Homo sapiens: one gene and its partner. The protein of the gene in region 2 purifies or fractionates together with the protein of the main gene of each other region. This does not show direct contact. Each region holds a gene or a part of one and is shown on either strand. Other genes may lie near its edges. The genes, in order: DDX10 and SRFBP1.

What was found.
Region 1: the proteins of SRFBP1 (region 2) and DDX10 purify together in Homo sapiens (affinity purification with mass spectrometry; 4 studies listed by BioGRID and IntAct, with this or other methods). This does not show direct contact.

Annotation. Positions count from the first base shown.
Region 1 is NC_000011.10:108,672,153-108,684,669, reverse strand, and holds part of DDX10 (probable ATP-dependent RNA helicase DDX10), read right to left. Parts: intron 11,204-12,517; coding exon 11,143-11,203; intron 9,075-11,142; coding exon 8,944-9,074; intron 7,586-8,943; coding exon 7,427-7,585; intron 6,356-7,426; coding exon 6,235-6,355; intron 5,300-6,234; coding exon 5,110-5,299; intron 1-5,109. UniProt on the Homo sapiens protein: Putative ATP-dependent RNA helicase that plays various role in innate immunity or inflammation. Plays a role in the enhancement of AIM2-induced inflammasome activation by interacting with AIM2 and stabilizing its protein level.
Region 2 is NC_000005.10:122,020,975-122,027,974, reverse strand, and holds part of SRFBP1 (serum response factor-binding protein 1), read right to left. Parts: intron 5,606-7,000; coding exon 5,568-5,605; intron 1,034-5,567; coding exon 849-1,033; 3' UTR 1-848. UniProt on the Homo sapiens protein: May be involved in regulating transcriptional activation of cardiac genes during the aging process. May play a role in biosynthesis and/or processing of SLC2A4 in adipose cells.

The DNA of each region.
Region 1 (12,517 bases), on a different chromosome or scaffold from region 2:
TGCACACGTATGTTTATTGCGGCATTATTCACAATAGCAAAGACTTGGAACCAACCCAAATGTCCAACAATGATAGACTGGATTAAGAAAATGTGGCACATATACACCATGGAATACTATGCAGCCATAAAAACTGATGAGTTCATGTCCTTTGTAGGGACATGGATGAAATTGGAAACCATCATTCTCAGTAAACTATCGCAAGAACAAAAAACCAAACACTGCATATTCTCACTCATAGGTGGGAATTGAACAATGAGATCACATGGACACAGGAAGGGGAATATCATACTCTGGGGACTGTGGTGGGGTCGGGGGAGGGGGGAGGGATAGCATTGGGAGATATACCTAATGCTAGATGACAAGATGACAAGTTAGTGGGTGCAGCGCACCAGCATGGCACATGTATACATATGTAACTAACCTGCACAATGTGCACATGTACCCTAAAACTTAAGAGTATAATAAAAAAAAAAATTAAAAAAAAAAAAAAGAAAATCTATAACCTTAAAAAAAAAAAAAAAAAAAGAACTGGAAATAGATAAGATAAACTTAGAACACCAGAAAGCAAGGAGTCCAAAGATTACTAAAATGCATCTGAAGAATCAAGATAATAACTTGAAGCATCTACTAGCGAAGTTTGGGATGACACAAGATGAATATTAAATATAAAAATTTCTATTGATTCAAGGACATAAAAAGATGTTTAATCTATGAGTTAAGTATCATTAATTCATCATTAATTATCATTAAATCTGAGTTCATTTTTAGTACACACAACCTCCACCCCCCACCAAAAACAAATACTGCTAACCTTCAGAAAATACTAGGGAACCAACTCATTGGTGTTACAGCATACATTCTAATATTCTGGCTTTCCTGTAAGAACTGTACCTCAGAATCACATAGTTCATGTGAAAGCTCTTTGATATGAAAGTATTTAAACTAATGAAGAAATAATAGAATTAAAATATCACAATTTTGCAAACCCTGATGAAATAATGGAGCTAGGCAATAATTTCTATCAGCTGCTAAAATTGCAGGGCTAAGAAGCTGCTTGTATCAGATTAACCCTCTGGCCTAGAATAGCAACTACAAAAGCAGGAATAAATACAAAACAAAACAAAAAGACTGGCAGCATCTGAGAGCTACCAAGGCAGGTAGGACTTGAGGTGCTAAAGGAAAAAACAGAAATGCCCTGAGCCAAGCCCTCTGTTAACAACCTCACTTTTCTCCCCAAAAGCATTTGCTGATTGCAAGACAGGGGAGAAACAAGGTAGCAGCCTTAAGCCTAAACACATCAGTCGCAAGTCCCAGAGAGAAGGAAAACTGAATCTAAAATTTTTCATACAATTTACCCTTGAGGAACATGCCAACCCCTAAACAGAGCACACATAAGTCAAAATGAGGAAAAACAAGCAAAAACCAACCAACTGGGAAGCTACAGAACTGAGCAGAGATTCTGGCAGGGTCACAATGCTACGAGGTTCACAACTTGCCAAGACAGAGGGGCCCTGGTAGATACCTCAGTCTTTTGGTTGAGACCCTGAGAAAGGCTATGCCCCATCTGTGAAGATTATACCCCAAGTCTCAGGACAAACCAGAAATAGGATAACCCCAGAGTCTAATTGCCAGGCTAGACCAGATCAAGACAACCTGACCTTAAGGCATTTGCTGGCCAGAAATAAAGAAAAAATTACCTTCAAAGGAACAAGAGAACTGTCAGATGACTTTGACAGAAATAATGGAACTTAGAGTACAACAAAGATGTCTTTGAAGAGGAAAAAAAAACTGCCAAGATAGGCTTCAAAAAAAAATGAAGATGAAATAAAGAGGTTTTCAGAAAGGTCAAAACGCTGTTTCACTAACAAGTCTGCACTAAAAAGGAAATTATCTGAGCAAAAGAAAAATTCTCAGGTGGAAGGGTGACAATACAAGAAGAAGAACTGGGTAAGTCTAAATAAATACTGATGTTGCAAACAGTGATAACAGTGGCTTATGGGGCTTAAGATACACGTGGAATTAAAATACTTAACAATGAAGACACAAAGGTAGGAAGAAGTAAAGGGACCCAAATAATAATTAAATTAACTGTCAAAAGCAATTATCATACCAGATTAAAAATATGCTACTCACAAAGACAAATCTAAAAACATAGGGTGTAAACAATGTAGAAAGTACAAGGATGGGAAAGGATTCACCATGCAAATGCTAACTCAAAGAAAGTTGCTATAGGTAGACTAATATCAAACTAGACTTAAAGTTGGCCAGGCACAATGGCTCAGGCCTGTAATCCCAGCACTGTGGGAGGCCGAGGCGGGTGGATCACCTGAGGTTAGGAGTTCGAGACTAGCCTGGCCAACATGGTGAAACCCCGTCTTTACTCAAAATACAAAAATTAGGTGGGCATGGTGGTGGGCACCTGTAATCCCAGCTGCTCGGGAAGCTGAGGCAGTAAAATTGCTTGAACCCGGGAGGCAGAGGCTGCAGTGACCCGAGATCATGCCACTGCACTCCAGCCTGGGCGACAGAGCAAGACTCCATCTCAAAAAACACTAGACTTTAAGGCAAAAAAGAATTAGTAAAGATGAAAAGAAACATTTTATAAAATGAAAAAACACCGGGAGTAGGGAAGTGTTTTGCTACTCGTATTACAAATAAATAATTAATTTATCTAAAGGGCTCCTCCGAGCCAATAAGAAAAAGGCAAAAAAACCAAACCAAAAAAGACAGACTGTCCACAGAAAATAAGCACATACATGCAAAAAAGAAGCATTTCATAATGATTAATGTTTCAAATTGACAATGCAATTCTAAATTTGTATATACCTAATAACATAAGCTCATGACATATCTCAAATTTGAAATTTTTCATAATCCACCATAGAATTCAACTTGTCACTGAAAAACAGCAAATTGCTATGGCCCAAAGGCATATTCTCTCAAAAATAAAATCATTAGAAATACCAGTTGTCTATATATAACCACATAATGAAAACACTAGTATACTTTTTCTAAGTATGCTCTGACTTACAACTTCAGAAAGATCTAATTTTTCTTTAGTTGTTGTGTCCTTCACAATTTGAGAGTAGATACTCTCTAACACCTTAAAATATTCTTGATTATTATCTCTCCTGGTGTATGAACCACATTGATAAGCTACTAAAGTGGAAAAGCTAACATTGACATTAGATGAAATTCCTAAGAGCATCTGCTTTTTTATGTTTCCTATAAATTTGGAATATTAGAATACTGCAGCCATTATCATATAACCTGAGGTTTTGTAAATTATGTCAATACATGTCTACCTTCCAAAATTTTTTTCTGAAAATTTTGTCCACCACACTTTTATAAGTGATGGGACCGGGTTTCAAAAATCATTTGTGAAATAATATCAAAGTCTTTGTAGTTTTTTTCTAAAACTTTGTAATTTACAGAAAATAACCAACTCTTACCTACAGAAATTGGGGATAGGAAATAATACGTACAAATTAACTTGCATAAATTATGAAAGGTCTTAGAGACATCTAATGATTAAAAAAATCTGTCTGATGAATATTAAAAATAGGCTGGAGGCAAACAGAAAAAAGAGAAAAGTGAAAAATCCTAGACAAGCAGTCTTTACATTTTCAAGTTAATTGTTAATTGTCACAAAAATTTTCATAGCTATCTCAACTCTTTAAGAGATCAATGTCCACTCGAAAGTAAGCCAAGGGAAAAAAACTATACCTCACATATCTTACTATTCCATTCCCAAGTTCTTGAAAGTCAAAGATACCAGTACTCAGATTCCCCAAGATCACCCAGAAGCAAAGAATCTGGCCTCTTCGTCTCAGGCTTTTTAAATCCTAGACATACATTATACAAGGTCAAGATGGGCCTGAATACTCATATTTTCTCTATTTAAGGAATTTCCAGATAACACAATTCATTTTCCAAATCTATTTCTTTTTAGGCTAACATTTCAGAGCAAGAAGAAATAAAAATTTTAAGATATAAATAATAGAAGAGTTGAATTTACATTGCTATCTTCAACAAAAAATCCAACTTTATATTTACTGGAAAACATTTCTCCTGGAAGTCTGCAGTGATTCATACCAAATATATATGCTTCTAATTGTCATATGAAAATACAACTTAAAACATATCCCAGCTGGGCACAGTGGCTCATGCCTGAGTGTAATCTCAACACTTTGGGAGGCCAAAGTGGGAGGATTGCTTGATCTCAGGAATTTGAAACCAGCCTGGGCAATGTAGTAAGTCTTCAACTCTACAAAAAATTTTAAAATTAGCCACGCATGGTGGTATGCCCTGGTTGTCCCAGCTACTCAGGAAGCTGAAGCAGGAGGATTGTTTGAGCCCAGAAGTTGAAGGCTGTAGTGAGCTATATTCACACAACTGCACTCCAGCCTGGGTGACAGAGCAAGACCCTGTCTCGAAAAAAAGAGATAAATAAAAATTTCCCCAACTACTTGCATATCACAAACATACATACTTTTACTGTAACACATATACTTTAAGCTCTAGTTTTTAATGAGACCAAGACAAAACAATAGTTGCTAGAATTTTAGACTGAAAGGTATTTTGCTAAATATTAATGCACTTCATAAAATGTGTTCCATAACACATTAGTACTGCATAATCCTGCTAAAAAGGATGATTCCGTACCCAAAAAATTTGGTAAATGTAGCAAGCTACATCCACCTCCCTCCCACTGCTTTCAACAATCACAATGTCCCTGAAAATATTAAAGGTTGTGAGAAATAGAAATAAAACTGTTTCACTTTGACTCACCATTTGCTATTTCATCCCTTCTCCCTTCGTTTATTAAGAGGTAGTGTTGGCAAATGGTAAAATACCTCTTAACATCTATGGAAAAACATTTGTTCCCCTCCCAGACCACATTTTGGGAAATGCTACATTCAAGTACCCTGACATTTAAAGATATATGCAGAATTTGGGTAATTTTAACTGGTATATTTACTATGCTTTGCATAACCAATAACTCATAGAATGTCTTAATTCCCAGAAAACAGATATTTAAAATACCAAATCCCTAAACTAAAAAAGTAAAAAACATTTATCTTGATTGACTCAAAGAGTACATACCTATATTTTGCTTTTTCATGAACCCAGACATACTCAGGGTTTTTCAAACTCAAGCGTGCAAGGTCCTTTACAGATTTAGTTTGTGTTGCTGAGAAAAGTAAAGTCTGACGTTTCTTGGGGAGATTTTCAATAACAGCATTCATGGTATCAGCAAAGCCCATATCCAAGATTCTATCTGCTTCATCAAGAACTGAAAAAGGAAAATGCAAGTTGAACTATCATATGTAAAATATACATTAGGCTAAATGCAATGGGTATCCTGGATTGGATCCTAAAACAGAAAAAGAACATTAGCGGAAAAACTGGTAAAACCTGAATAAAGTCTGGAATTTATATGATGTAGCAATGTTAACCTTAGTTTTGATAAAAGTACCATGTCATGTAAGACATTAACACCAGGGGAAGGCTGGGCACAGTGGCTCAGGCCTGTAATCCCAGCACTTTGGGAGGCCAAGGTGGGCAGATCACAAGGTCAAGAGGTCAAGACCATCCTGGCCAACATTGTGAAACCCCGCCTCTACTAAAAATACAAAAATTAGCTGGGCGTGGTGGTGCACACCTGTAGTCCCAGCTATCGGGAGGCTGAGGCAGGAGAATCACTTGAACCCATGAGCCGAGATCATGCCACCGTACTCCAGCCTAGCAACAGAGCGAAACTCTGTATAAAAAAAAAAAAAAAAAAAAAAAAAATTAGGGGAAACCAGCTGAAGGATAATGCAGGAACTCTCCACTGCAACTTTCCTACAAATCAAAAATGTTCAAAGATAAAGTTGATTTAAAAATACACATCAGGTAGTATTCCCAAGCAAAAAAGAAAAAGTTCATTTAAAAAAATGCCAATTTGACCTTTCAAGTTATTAGAAGCAGGTGTTAAAAACCTTGGCATGGTCTAATACTAACGTGCCTAATTTCACATATAAGCGTACATACATTCTTCTGATTTTTTTAAGTCTACTTTTACTTTCTGGGTTTAGAGCCCAAATGCCAAAATGTTTCAGTAATTTTTAAGTTTGTTTTGAATCATAACATTTATCTAACATAAAATTTCTATCATAAAAATGTATAAGGGCTCTCTCCTAAGTCTGAGCTTTTTTTTTTTTTAAATTAGAAATTGATTTGACTCACCTAACATTTGGAGGTCGGTAGCATGAAAAGATACTGTTTCATCCATGTGTTGAAGAAGCCGACCTGGTGTGCACACGAGTATATTTATGTTGTTGATCCTCTCAGCTTCGTGTTTTAGATCCTGAAAACAGTTATTTATTTTGATTACACAGACACATCACTCTCAGCAGCCTGTGTACCAAAGCTATAAAAGCCATCTGCATGGGCATTTCATCACAACATTTTAGATACTCTTGGAAATAAACATAACTTTTCCCTTGTATTTCTGAACCATATCCACATTTCTGGGCTAAATAAAAGTCTTTACAGGAAGACATAAGGAGCTCAGAGTTCTAAATTCTTATTCATACCCAGGATTTTGAGGCTAAGAAAAAAAAATAATCAAATGAATACTCCAAGTCAGGATTTCCTATTTGGATCAGAACTGACATAAACTGGAATCACTCTCATTCTTTAATTCAGGACCCAGGGACATTGAACAGACTCTGACACCGCTCAAGGACTGTACTTTGTGAACTGAAAAAAGCCGAGGTTCTCTCCTTGATACAAGAACCACTTCTCACAGTCCTGGAGGCGGTGGGAAAAAACAGAATGTTGTTAATTGTTAAAGTTAGGCAACAGGTACGTAAGGGTTTGTGATGCTATTCTTTCTTCTTTTGTGCATGTTTGCATAAAAATTGAAGTATTTATCCTCACAGTCTAGTGGAGATTCTAGCAGATAGAGGCATTCTAGATGTGCTATAAGATAGAACAAAAGTGAGCAGCAGGTCTTATCTTGACCTACTATAAACATTCCTCTAAAGAGTCTACCTTCCTTTCTTACGCTGCTGATGTAGCAATCCTCTGAATTATTCAGCCTCTTAGATAGATACCTTATTAAAAGGTACTAGTTCATATATGGAAATATCTTTCCCAATGAATATCAACAAATAACTTTACAGGATTAGAGTAAATATGTCTTAGAGAGGCTAATCAATTCAGATTCCCCGACAAAAAAAAATGGACTTTCTGGGCCTGCAAAATTGGCAACCAGATCGTAGATAGCAGCGACCACACCAAGTGCTACTATCCCATGAGGCCCTGGTCTAGGTCAGTCTGTTTAGATGAAGTCTCTGCTGCCTCCCTGTCATCGGCCACAGTACTCCAGTATAGGTTACAGAAGGAAAGGAAGGACATAGACAAAAGGACAAACCTTTCCACCAATGATGAGACCAGCTGAGAAGTCATGATTCTTTCCTACTTTTCGGAGAACCTCAAAGGTCTGATAGGCCAGTTCTCTCGTAGGTGATATTATGAGAACCCCCAGCCCATCTGTTGAAGTCCATTGCAGACGATATAAGGCTTCCAGCACCTCAAAAAGACAGCAAATTCATGTTCAGTAAGTCATCAGAAGTCAGCTTTTTGACCTGCATCTCAACCTTGCCCCTCCAAATCAAAGGGATCTTCCAAGCAGAAGGCATACCACTCAAGTTTTATCCAGTCCAAAGTAAATGATTTTGTTTATCTTCCATCAGAACCATCCACCCCCAACTCAGAGGAAAGGGAAAAGAAACCCCACGGTAGTTCAGCTGCTGCCAGAGCCATGCCATCAGGAAACTGGCTATCAGTGAAAGGTATGTACAACCCAAAGACCTTTACAACACACTTAAGAATAATATTTATCATTTTCTAAATAACCACACTAAAACTTTTGGCTGGGCGCAGTGGCTCACGCCTGATCCCAGAACTTTGGAGGAGGAGGCGGGTGCATCACTTGAGGTCAGGAGTTCAAGACCAGCCTGACCAATATGATGAAACCCCGTATTTACCAAAAATACAAAAATCAGCTTGGCGTGGTAGCCCACATCTGTAATCTCAGCTACTTGGGAGGCTGAGGCAGAAAGAATCGCTTGAACCTGGGAGGCAGAGGTTGCAGTGAGCCAAGATTGCACCACTGCACTCCAGCCTGGGCAACACAGCATGACTTCATCTCAAAAAAAAATAAAAATAAGTAAATAAACTTTCACCCATGTAGCTGCTGTAGTTATATAGTAACTGAATTATCTAGCTATAGGGAGCCTTTTTTTTTAAGGGGGCAAAAACACACTAGGATTTAAGAGAAAAGTGGTTTTTGCAATATTTGGAACAAAAACTAAAATGAGATTTTTCTGGGTCATTTTATAGGAATGAAAAATTAGGAGACCAACGTAACAGAGATGGAAGTGAAAGCCTAAGAAGCTCTACTGTTTTGCTGCCATAAAAGACCGATAGCAATGTCCCAGAAAATTCTCAACAAATGCCTAAAGCTCCTTAAACTGAGCATATTTCAGCTTTATCCTAAACAAGGTGGCAAGTATAAATGCCACTGGCAGGCTCACAAGGGTGAGAGCAGAAACTGTCTCCCACCAGTCCTACTGCAGCACAGAACCACTTTAACCTGCCATACTGGAGCACTCCACTTCCATCAAGAATGTAATGACTTGTCAAGGCACAATAGTTCATTCATTCAGTAAGTTATTGAGTGCCTGCCACATGCAAGGCACTGTGCTAGAACCTGGGGAAAATGGTGAGAACAAGACACACATGTGGCTCCTGTTTGATGAAGCTCGCATTCTAGCCAATCTATCATGAAATCTAACATGAAAACATCTCTTTATATAATCTGCATCTGGGCACAGAATGTTATAAAATTGTATAACAGACAGTCTGACCCAATGACAATGTACTTACTGGAACAAGAAAAGCCAGAGTCTTGCCAGATCCAGTTTTGGCCGCTCCAAGTACATCTTTACCTTGCAAAGCCAATCCAATGGTCTGCTTCTGTATCTCAGTCACCAAACGGTACTGAGCTTCTTGCAAACCTGGCAACATGGAGGGAAGAATTATACTTTAGAAGATCCCTGTAGGATGGTATTATAGGCTAAGTGAGTTGTGTCCCCCAAAATTCCTATGTTGAAGCCCTAATGCCTCGTACCTCAGAACATAACTATACTTGGAGACAGGGCCTTTAAAGAGGTTGATTAAGTTAGAGCCCCATAGGGGTGGACTCTGATCCAACACAAACGGTGTCTTTATGAGAAGAAACTTGAACAAAGAGACACCAAGGGTCCACATGCACAGAGGGAAAACCATGTGAAGAGAGACAAGTTATTCTGTGATCCACCTACTCCACTCCTGGGTATAATCCAAAGGGTTTATTAATAAAACCACTACTTTGAAAAGTATTTGTGCTCACATGTTCATTGCAGCATTATTCACAGAAGCCAAGATATGAAATCAACCTAAGTGTCCATGAATGAGTAAAGAAAATATATGTTATATACATACACATACACACACACACACACACACACACACACACACACACAAATGGAATATGACTCAGCCTTTAAAAAGGAAATCCTGTTATTTACAACAACATGGATGAACCTGGAGGACCTTATGTTAACTGAAATAAACCAGGCACAGCAATAAAGATGCCACATAATCTCACTTATATGTAGAATCTAAAAAAGCCAAATTCAAAGGAGCAGAGGGTAGAATGGTAGTTACCAGAAGCTGGGGGAAGTAAGGAGAGTGGGAAGATGTTCATCAAACATACAAAATTTCAGTTAGAAGGAAGAACTTCAAGAGATCTATTGTAGGCCAGGCGTGGTGGCTCACGCCTATAATCCCAGCACTTTGGGAGGCCAAGGCAGGCAGATTCCTTAAAGTTCAGGAGCTCAAGACTAGCCTGGGCAACATGGCAAAACTCTATCTCTACCAAAAATTTTTAAAAATTAGCCAGGCACAGTGGCATGCACCTGCAGTTCCAACTACTCAGGAGGCTGAGATGGGAGGATCACTTGAGCCCAGAAGGCTGAGGATGCAGTGAGCTAAGATCACACAACTGCACTGCACCCTGGGTGACGGAGCAAGACCCTATCTTAAAAAAAAAAAAGAGAGATCTATTATATATCTCTCTTAATATATACTGCTATAGTTAATTAAAATATACTGAAAAAAGAAAAAATACTAAGTAGATTTTAAGAGTTCTAAACACAAAAGGATGAGGTAATATTAGCACATATACAATTAGTTTGATTTAGCCATTCCACAGCATATACATATTTCAAAGCATCATGTATACACTGTAAATATATACAATTTTTTTTTTTGAGACGGTGTCTCACTCTGTTGCCCAGGCTGGAGTAGAGTGGCATGAACCCGCCTCCCAGGTTCAAGTGATTCCCCTGCCTCAGCCTGTAGCTGGGATTACAGGTGCCCGCCACCACACCCAGCTAATTTTTGTATTTTTAGTAGAGACGGGGTTTCACCATGTTGGCCAGGCTGGTCTCAAACTCCTGACCCTGTGATCCACCCACCTCGGCCTCCCAAAGTACTGGGATTACAGGCATGAGCCACCACACCTGGCCAAATATATACAATTTTTATGTATCCAAAAATAAAAAGGCAGCAAGAGGGCAGCCATCCACAAGCCAAGGAGGCCTGGAACAAATCCTTCCCTTATTTTGCCTTAAGAGGAAACCAATGCCACCAACATCTTGATCCCAGACTTCCAACTTCCAGAACTGTGAGAAAATCAGTCTCTGTTGTTTAAGCCACTCAGTCTGATATTTTGTCATCTCAGCCCTAGCAAACAGATACAAAGGGTGTTGCATCTTGGTTTGTTCCCTTGCTTATTTTAACTAACAAAATTAGATTTCATTTTATTCAGAGGATGCTGGAAACTTGTTTTTCTTTTAATTAGTCCAGAAAGAATGAGAATAACGTACTGTTAAAACTTGAATATTGCTTATTTTCATTGGTTTTCATGATATCAAAATTTGCCAAAATAAGATTTTTCAGGCTAAACCCTCTAAATCTTCTCCCATTTATCAAAAATGCCAAGAAATCCAATAACACATCCCAAGATCACCATATACTTACCTTTCAATGTTTTTTTGGACAAGGGAAAATCTGAAAATCTTGTGATTTCATTTACATTTATCTGGAAAAAAAGAAAAAGGAATCAGGGTAACTCATTTGTTTCACGACACAGCCATTTCTTCTCTACATTGTATTGCCCAGCTCATCCTTGGTAATTCAGGGTTGAATTCAATCATCGCTTCTAATTAAAAGCCATCATTCCTTCTGTAACGAAATATGCCCTGAAGAGGCTGTCCCTGAATCGAATATACATTTGTAAGCATTTCAATTGGTAAGGAAAAAAAAGTCACCCAATACACACACACCACACATACTACTATCTGACCTCCAAAATGTTGAACACAGTAAAGCATCACCAACCACATCAATTTTAGGAAGAAAATTTACTTCCTATCATCCTTCAAGGGATCTCAATTTAAGAAACAAGGACAAAATTACCACAAACCACAGATCACAATGAAAATAGTTCTATACACACAATTTGGAAAAAAGAGTGAAATTAGTTGGAGAAATATTTCTTGTTAGCACAATCCTTTCAAAGTTTTAACCATAAATCAGTGGCCTATGAAATCCAACCTGATAACTATTCATTTTGGGGTTACTGAAGGAGGAGTATTATTTCAACACAGGGGAAATGTCTGTCATGCTTTGAAGCCACAATAAGTAACATTTTGCTAACTTTACATTATTCAAATATTCATTACTGATGTTCTTTATTAGCACAAACCCAATTTTCTGAATTTCATTTCAGCTGCTCAGGAGAATTATTTTATTACAGATGCTGAAGGCAGGAACTACTGCTCAGTTCTGGAAATATGCTGCCAAATTATACATGATTCGCAAAAGGAAAAAGCTGCATTTGTATGGTTCATTTATTTAAATTACACTCTAGGCAGTAAAAGGATGACAGTTGTACTTCATTTTACAATCTACACATCTTTCCTATGATTCTTAACATTGCCCAGGCAGTGTTTACTCTGTGCCCTCCAATGCTGAAAATACAAATATTAAAACATTGTCTTAATCCCTACAAATCATTTCAGATATCACTGGAAAGGAGGCAGAATCAGTGTACCAGCATTAGAAGAACGGTTTATTCAAATAACATACTGTCCCAGCAAGGAACCTCAATTAGAAGATAATCTTCCAAACAAGGCATTAAAATTAGGTGTAGCTCACTCTAGCACTCGTGGTATTATCAGCTAAAAAGCTGTTTTCAAAGGGAATGGAATGCCTACAGAAGGAGGCAGGCTGCCAACACACTCTTCAATCCCCAGCAAGAGACACAGTACAGGCAAAGCGAGCTCCTCAAACAAAACATTGCACAGCACATCTATCTTCCTAAAGTCAGTTAACCTCCTGGAGGGAAAGTTTA
Region 2 (7,000 bases):
TTCCTCAAAAATTTTAAAATAAGTATAGTAAAAACTAGATAATATACATTCTTGATTTAATGGAAATATTTATATGCAGTGAAACATAAAACAAATTATTGGTTGTATTGCTATATTTAAACAATTTTCTTAACTAAAATATAATTAAGAATCCCAAAATTGTCCTAGACAACTATTTTAGAATCAAAAAGTACATGATCACAAGTACTTAAAACTATAATAAAATTAATATTTATCTGTACATCCATAATAAAAGTTACTATTTTAGTTTGCTAACAAGAATGATTTTTAACAAGGGTGATCTGGTTTAAATAGCTGATTTCCTATGTTTCCATTATTATTTTAAATATATATTGACATTTATGTTTAAGGAAACAACAGAGCTGAACCAGTGAAGCACATTTCATGATAAGCACTAAAGAGAAAATATGAGATCACTAAAATCCCCAAATTACTTCATAAGGGAAACAGTCTGAGGGATATTATTAAAAATCAATTTAAGTACATATTGGATTTGTGAAAGGCTTATATAAGCGTAAGTTGAATTTACTTTAAAAAAAAATACAAAAACAAACATTCTATAATTCTCCCCAAGAGACTTATTCAAATACGAGTTTAAGTAATAGCTGCAGAGCCTGGGGTGAGAAAGCTGGGCATGGTAGTGCATGCACCTGCAGTCCCAGCCCTTTGGGAGGCAGAGGTGGGAGGATCACTTGAGCCCAGGAGTTTGAGGCTGCAGTGAGCTGTGATTGCAATATTGTACTCTAGTCTGGGCAACAGAATGAGATCCTGTCTTAAAAAAAACATTTTTTTTTTTAGATGGAAAAGTTTGCAGAAAGAGGCACTAATCAATCATCAAACGTAATTTTTTTCCCCTGAAACACAGCAATATTAGATTGCTGTTCTTTTCGCCTTCTGCTTGCTTCCCATGAAGGATGAAGAGGCAGCTGCAATTGCTGTTTTGTATTTTCAAGTCTTCCTGATAGCTTCTTATTAAACTGATTCTTGATCTGAGGCTCATTCTGTGGAAAATCTAGGAAGAGAAAGCAAAAATAATAATAACTATATACTTAAAGAGCATATAGGAGAAGTAAATTTCATCTTTTTCAAACCAATGTTAAAAAAAGAAATTTTGTTTTCTTAAATGGAATATTTCACAATTTAAAACTGAAGTCTAACAGGGAATAGTTTGAAGTTGAAAATTTATATACAAGTAGTCAATTTTGACACACATGCTTTCTAACACTTATAAGTAGATGTTTATTGAGTGCCTCTTAATTTATGCTGTGCTGTCTTATTTATAACAACATAAAGAAAGGAATCACTCTGTTGTACTAGCATGGAAGGCAAAAAAGAAGGGCATCATGTATTTTCAAAGGAACATCATTAGCTTATGATATCTGTGTACATGAAGCAGATGTAGCCAGAAAATTCACATCTTAGCTAAGACACTCCACTGAGTCTGACAATACTGATAGTGCTTACTCATTTTTAAAGGCTATAAGTTGATTCCACTCCCGTCTGTTATTGAACCAAAAGTGGTTATTACAAGGCAAATAGTACTAAGTCTACTCAAGAATATAAGACAAAGTTCTTTTTTAGTTGTAACATTAATCTCCAGATATGAAGGTGGCAACTTGTATTCTAGTCCATATAGTATCTTAACATTTTACATGATTTTGAACCAAGTCTTATTTGGCGAAGATACACTAGTATGAAAAGATATGCATCAATGCACATTTTAGTTGCTTACAGAACTTAGGAGATGGAATCAGAAAGAAAAAGAGAGACAAAAAAACTTAATATAGACTTCTTAATCAGTCCTATGACTATGTAATTTCTCCATTGCAAGTTAGGAATCATTGTCAAAAGACTTCTTTTTTTTAAGACGGAGTCTTGCTCTGTTGCCCAGGATGGAGAGCAGTGGCGTGATCTTGGCTCACTGCAACCTCCACCTCCCAGGTTCAAGCAATTCTCCTGCCTCAGCCTCCTAAGTAGCTGGGATTACAGGCATGTGCCACTATGCCTGGCTAATTTATGTATTTTTAGTAGAGACATATTGGTCAGGCTGATCTCGAACTCCTGACCTCAGACGATCCACCCACCTCAGCCTCCCAAAGTGCTGGGATTACAGGCATGAGCCACCGTGCTCGGCCTGTCAGAAGCCTTTTAAAGACCTCTTTAAGAAAACAAATGTAAAAATGTTATATAAACCAGTGCACTGTTTGGGATAATATTTACAAAACATTATCTAGACAGAAATCAAAACAACCCTTATCTTACACAAATCACATGTGCTCTAGAAATCTGTTACAATATTCAAAGAGTGGCTGTAGAGATGAAAAGTTTAAAAAAAACTGTAGAGGATGTGGAGAAATAGGAACACTTTTACACTGTTGGTGGGACTGTAAACTAGTTCAACCATTGTGGAAGTCAGTGTGGCGATTCCTCAGGGATCTAGAACTAGAAATACCATTTGACCCAGCCATCCTATTATTGGGTATATACCCAAAGGATTATAAATCATGCTACTATAAAGACACATGCACACGTATGTTTATTGCGGCACTATTCACAATAGCAAAGACTTGGAACCAACCCAAATGTCCAACAATGATAGACTGGATTAAGAAAATGTGGCACATATACACCATGGAATACTATGCAGCCATAAAAACTGATGAGTTCATGTCCTTTGTAGGGACATGGATGAAACTGGAAACCATCATTCTCAGCAAACCATCGCAAGGACAAAAAACCAAACACCGCATGTCCTCACTCATAGGTGGGAATTGAACAATGAGAACACATGGACACAGGAAGGGGAACATCACACACCGGGGACTGTTGTGGGGTGGGGGGAGTGGGGAGGGATAGCATTAGGAGATATACCTAATGGTAAATGACGAGTTAATGGGTGCAGCACACCAACATGGCACATGTATACATATGTAACAAATCTGCACGTTGTGCACATGTACTCTAAAACTTAAAGTGTAATAATAATAAAAATAAAAAAAACAAAACAAAACAAAACAAAAACCTGTTTCATAAAAACTGAGATTTGAATAAGGTAGTATTTCTAAATGAATGTATTATTTTATATATTACATAGAGTTGTATATGTAAATAAACTAGTAAATATTTTAAGCATACAAGCTAAGCACAAAAAACCCTTTATTTGGATAGTCTCATTGTGAAAATGTAGGTATGTCTTATATTTACAGTTATCCTGTGTTTGTGAATATATGGTATAAATGGGGCATACTGACATGTTTCTGCCAAATCCTGTATTATCTTCCTTTTAGGCATACAATCAGAATATAGTTTCCATTCCTGCTGCAGTTAGGTGAGGTCACATGGCTAATTGAGTTATGGCCAATAAAATGTGAGTAAAAGGCCTGGACCATAAAAACCTCACATTCAATCTTCCATTACTTTTCTATCGCTGATGAATGAAGAGAACTCCTAGGATCCAGAGGAGGCAAGAGGCACAAGACAGAATAAAATTCCTAGAAGCAGACAGACTGATAGATGACAAACCACTGAGATTTAGCAGGTAGTCTACTATGAATAATACTAAAATTGGTACTCTGAAGTACCATTACAATAACATAAAAATTTGGCATTGGCTTAGCAGTTCAGTGGTGGGTAGCAAGGAAACAGATAACTGAGAATGAGAAGTAAGCAACCCATGTGCCAAAGAAATAGGTAAAACTGTTGTCAGTGATAACTTGGCAAGCAGGCCACAAGCCTATGGAGTTTGCTGTACAAAGGTAACTGGCTGGAAAGAATAAAAAGATCAGCGTATTACTGGCTGTCCTTGACAATGCACTACACAAAAGAGAACAGAGAGAACAAAAGAATCTAGATATTTGGGAACTTAAGGTTTAGAAAAGCCTTTGACTCCCAAACAGTAACCTGTAAGTCTAAGAAAAGTTGCCCACAGCAACTCAGCCCTAGAGCAGAGATAAGACTAAATGTATGGCACTCCCATCCAAATCTGATTAATTTTCAATGCAGTAGATGCTGAATGAGAGCGGGAAGTGGGAAAAATAAAACAAAACACAAACAAATAAGACAAGTTTGAGAACTAGCTCAAAGAAAGAATTTTCAGTACGGTAACTAGCCCACAGACGGACTGAAGGAAACAGAGGTCAGAAATCCACTGAGTTTTTGAGGAGGTGTATAGTGAAAGAAATCACAAGCCTGGGATGGAAAAAACCTCTGCTGAACTTTGTACAATCTTCATCATTTTATATTTGTACCAGTGACTTGGGGCAAACTCCAAAGAGATCATGTTAAATACCCACCTCAGATGTGGCCACGAAACAAAGACCCTCCCTAGACACGGACCATGAAGAACAATGGATAAAGAAGTTCCTCTCAGAGCCTTCATAATCTTTGCTCAGCAGAATTTCAGATAGTAGACCTGTTGTGTGCCTTCCATTTTTTCCTTAAGCTATCAAGAGTTTTTATTGTCATTACTTTGTCCCTGTTCTGCTACTCGATACATGGTATATCATGGTATGAATTTCTTTTTGGTACAAAGGTCACCAGACTTTGAAGAATCTCATCCATGAGATTTGATGGAAAATACTCCATGACCAGTGATCCTGGACTTTGAGCTAGATGCAGTGACTGGATGTGACTTTGGGTTGGCTGCCTTGGGAAGGAGGTAAGTGTGCTCTGTGTAGGAGGAAAAGTGAAATGGCCATCCAGTGATAGAAAGTCTGGTCACTGGAAGAAAAAGTTATGTGTTCACGAAATTCCACTTCCTCTTTTCTCCTAGATATATAGTAAGACTGCATTTCTTAGCTCCCCTGTGGCTAGATGGGGTCATGTGACTGAATTCTGGCTAATGATATGTGAGTAGAACTGGTTTCTGCTACTTTCAGGCCTTGCTCACAAACACCTGCAAAATTCTCCATGTACTCCATTCCCTTCTATTGGCAAATGGAGAATATTTGGAACCTGGAGGAGGAAAACGCCAAAAGATGGAAGAAGCCTGATCCTTGAATGACTATGTGGAACACAGCCTCTCTGCTAATTCATCACAGTGGACTGTGATGTGAATGAGAAATGAATTTTTGCTATGTTAAGTTAGTGAAAGTCTAGGATTGTGTGAGAAGTCACTCTACCCAAATACATGAAACTTAGATTTGTTACGAATTAATCTGAAAATATTCTGATTATACTCTTGCCCAAGAAAGTAATATACTTGTTATTCAATGTTTAACGGCATGGCATTAGCGTTTAGGATCACTAATAATTAAGATATAACTTGCATAATTTACTTAAAAAAAGTGTTGGTTTAATTTGAGATAAGTTAAATAGACATAATATTTCCTGATAAATTTTGTCTATATCTTTCCCTCTGGCAGGACACAGAAGAAAAGAAAACCAACAACAAAAAATTATATTGATAATTGTAAGATGCTCTGTTAACATTTCTGTGGGTACATAATTCATTCAGGCTATATTAAGCAACAACAATTTCTCATTCTTTTACTCTGGTAAAACATAGCTTAATTGCATATGAAGGTCAGGCAACTATGAATACATACCTAGGGATCTTGTTTTTGGAGCCTGTTCTTTGAAATTTCTAAAAGAAGAAAAACACCATTATGACTTTTTAAAGATAAATCCTCTGATCTTAAGAAAAAAACATAACAAAATTGATGATAAAACTAATTCAAAGGGCCACTATACTCCTTAGTCACACCAGCAAACAATAAAATAATTATGAAAGTCCCAGGTTGTAGCTGTATCAAACAAAGGTTTGTTAGAATCCAGTGTTACTACAGACACATGAGGACCTATTTCCCTCACCACCTTTAAAGAGAATTCTGTTTGTAATGGGAAATATCTTGTCTTGGTTACCTTGCCTTTACACTTCGGGATTATCTATATAAAGAATTTCTAAAGTCTTTTCACAGGAAGAATGACTCTCATATAACAAAAATTAAGATTTACATTTTGGCGGGGCACGGTGGGTCACGCCTGTAATCCCAGCACTTTGGGAGGCTGAGCAGGGTGGATCACAAGGTCAGGAGTTCGACACTAACCGGGCCAATATGGTGAAACCCGTCTCTACTAGAAAACAAAACAAAACAAAAAAAAAACAAAAATTAGCCGGGCGTGGTGGCATGCGCCTATAATCCCAGCTACTCAGGAGGCTGAGGCAGGAGAATTGCTTGAACCTGGGAGGCAGAGGTTACAGTGAGCCAAGATCACACCACTGCACTCCAGCCTGGGTGATAGAGTGAGACTCCGTCTCAAAAAAAAAAAAAAAAAAAAAAAAAAGATTTATATTTTGTGGTAAAGGGATAGTGGTGTGCCATTTTCAAATGTGGAAAAAAGTGCAGCTTTTTGAGGCAAGTTTGGAAAATATAAGTAAATATTTTAATTATTTCAACACTCCACACGTTTTTATGTCTTTGCCATACTGTGACATTTTTGAAAAATTTTTACATCACATTTTTCTATTTCATTAAAGACTATCCCTGACTTGTAAATATATGCAAAAACAGTTTATAGCTGTTACTGAAGAAATTAGCTAACCATAACCTTCACTCTAAAATGTGAAGATACCCTTTATCAAATTGGAATTACAAATAAAGTTAAACTTACTGTTTTATAACAGAACAGCTATGAAAAGTGGTGAGCAACAGAGATGGAGACAGCAACATCATCAAATAAAAAGCAGTATGGAGAAACTCAGTTTAAGGGCAAGCAGCCTTATATACTGAAATGGTACTAGACAGTAAAATGACTGATGTTTACAATAATGGTCCTGGATCATCAAGAAAAAACACCATATTCTTTTCAGAAAGTTCTGTTTAGAAAGATACATGAAACATTTTCAAAAGTTTTTCATCAAAAAAGATTTCAAAGTTTCAAAACTTTGATAAGTGAAGGAATAAAATTTAAATTAGCTGGCATATTATTTGGCTATAACATCTCATTTTCTGATGAAACTAGGCAAATGTGGCATTGC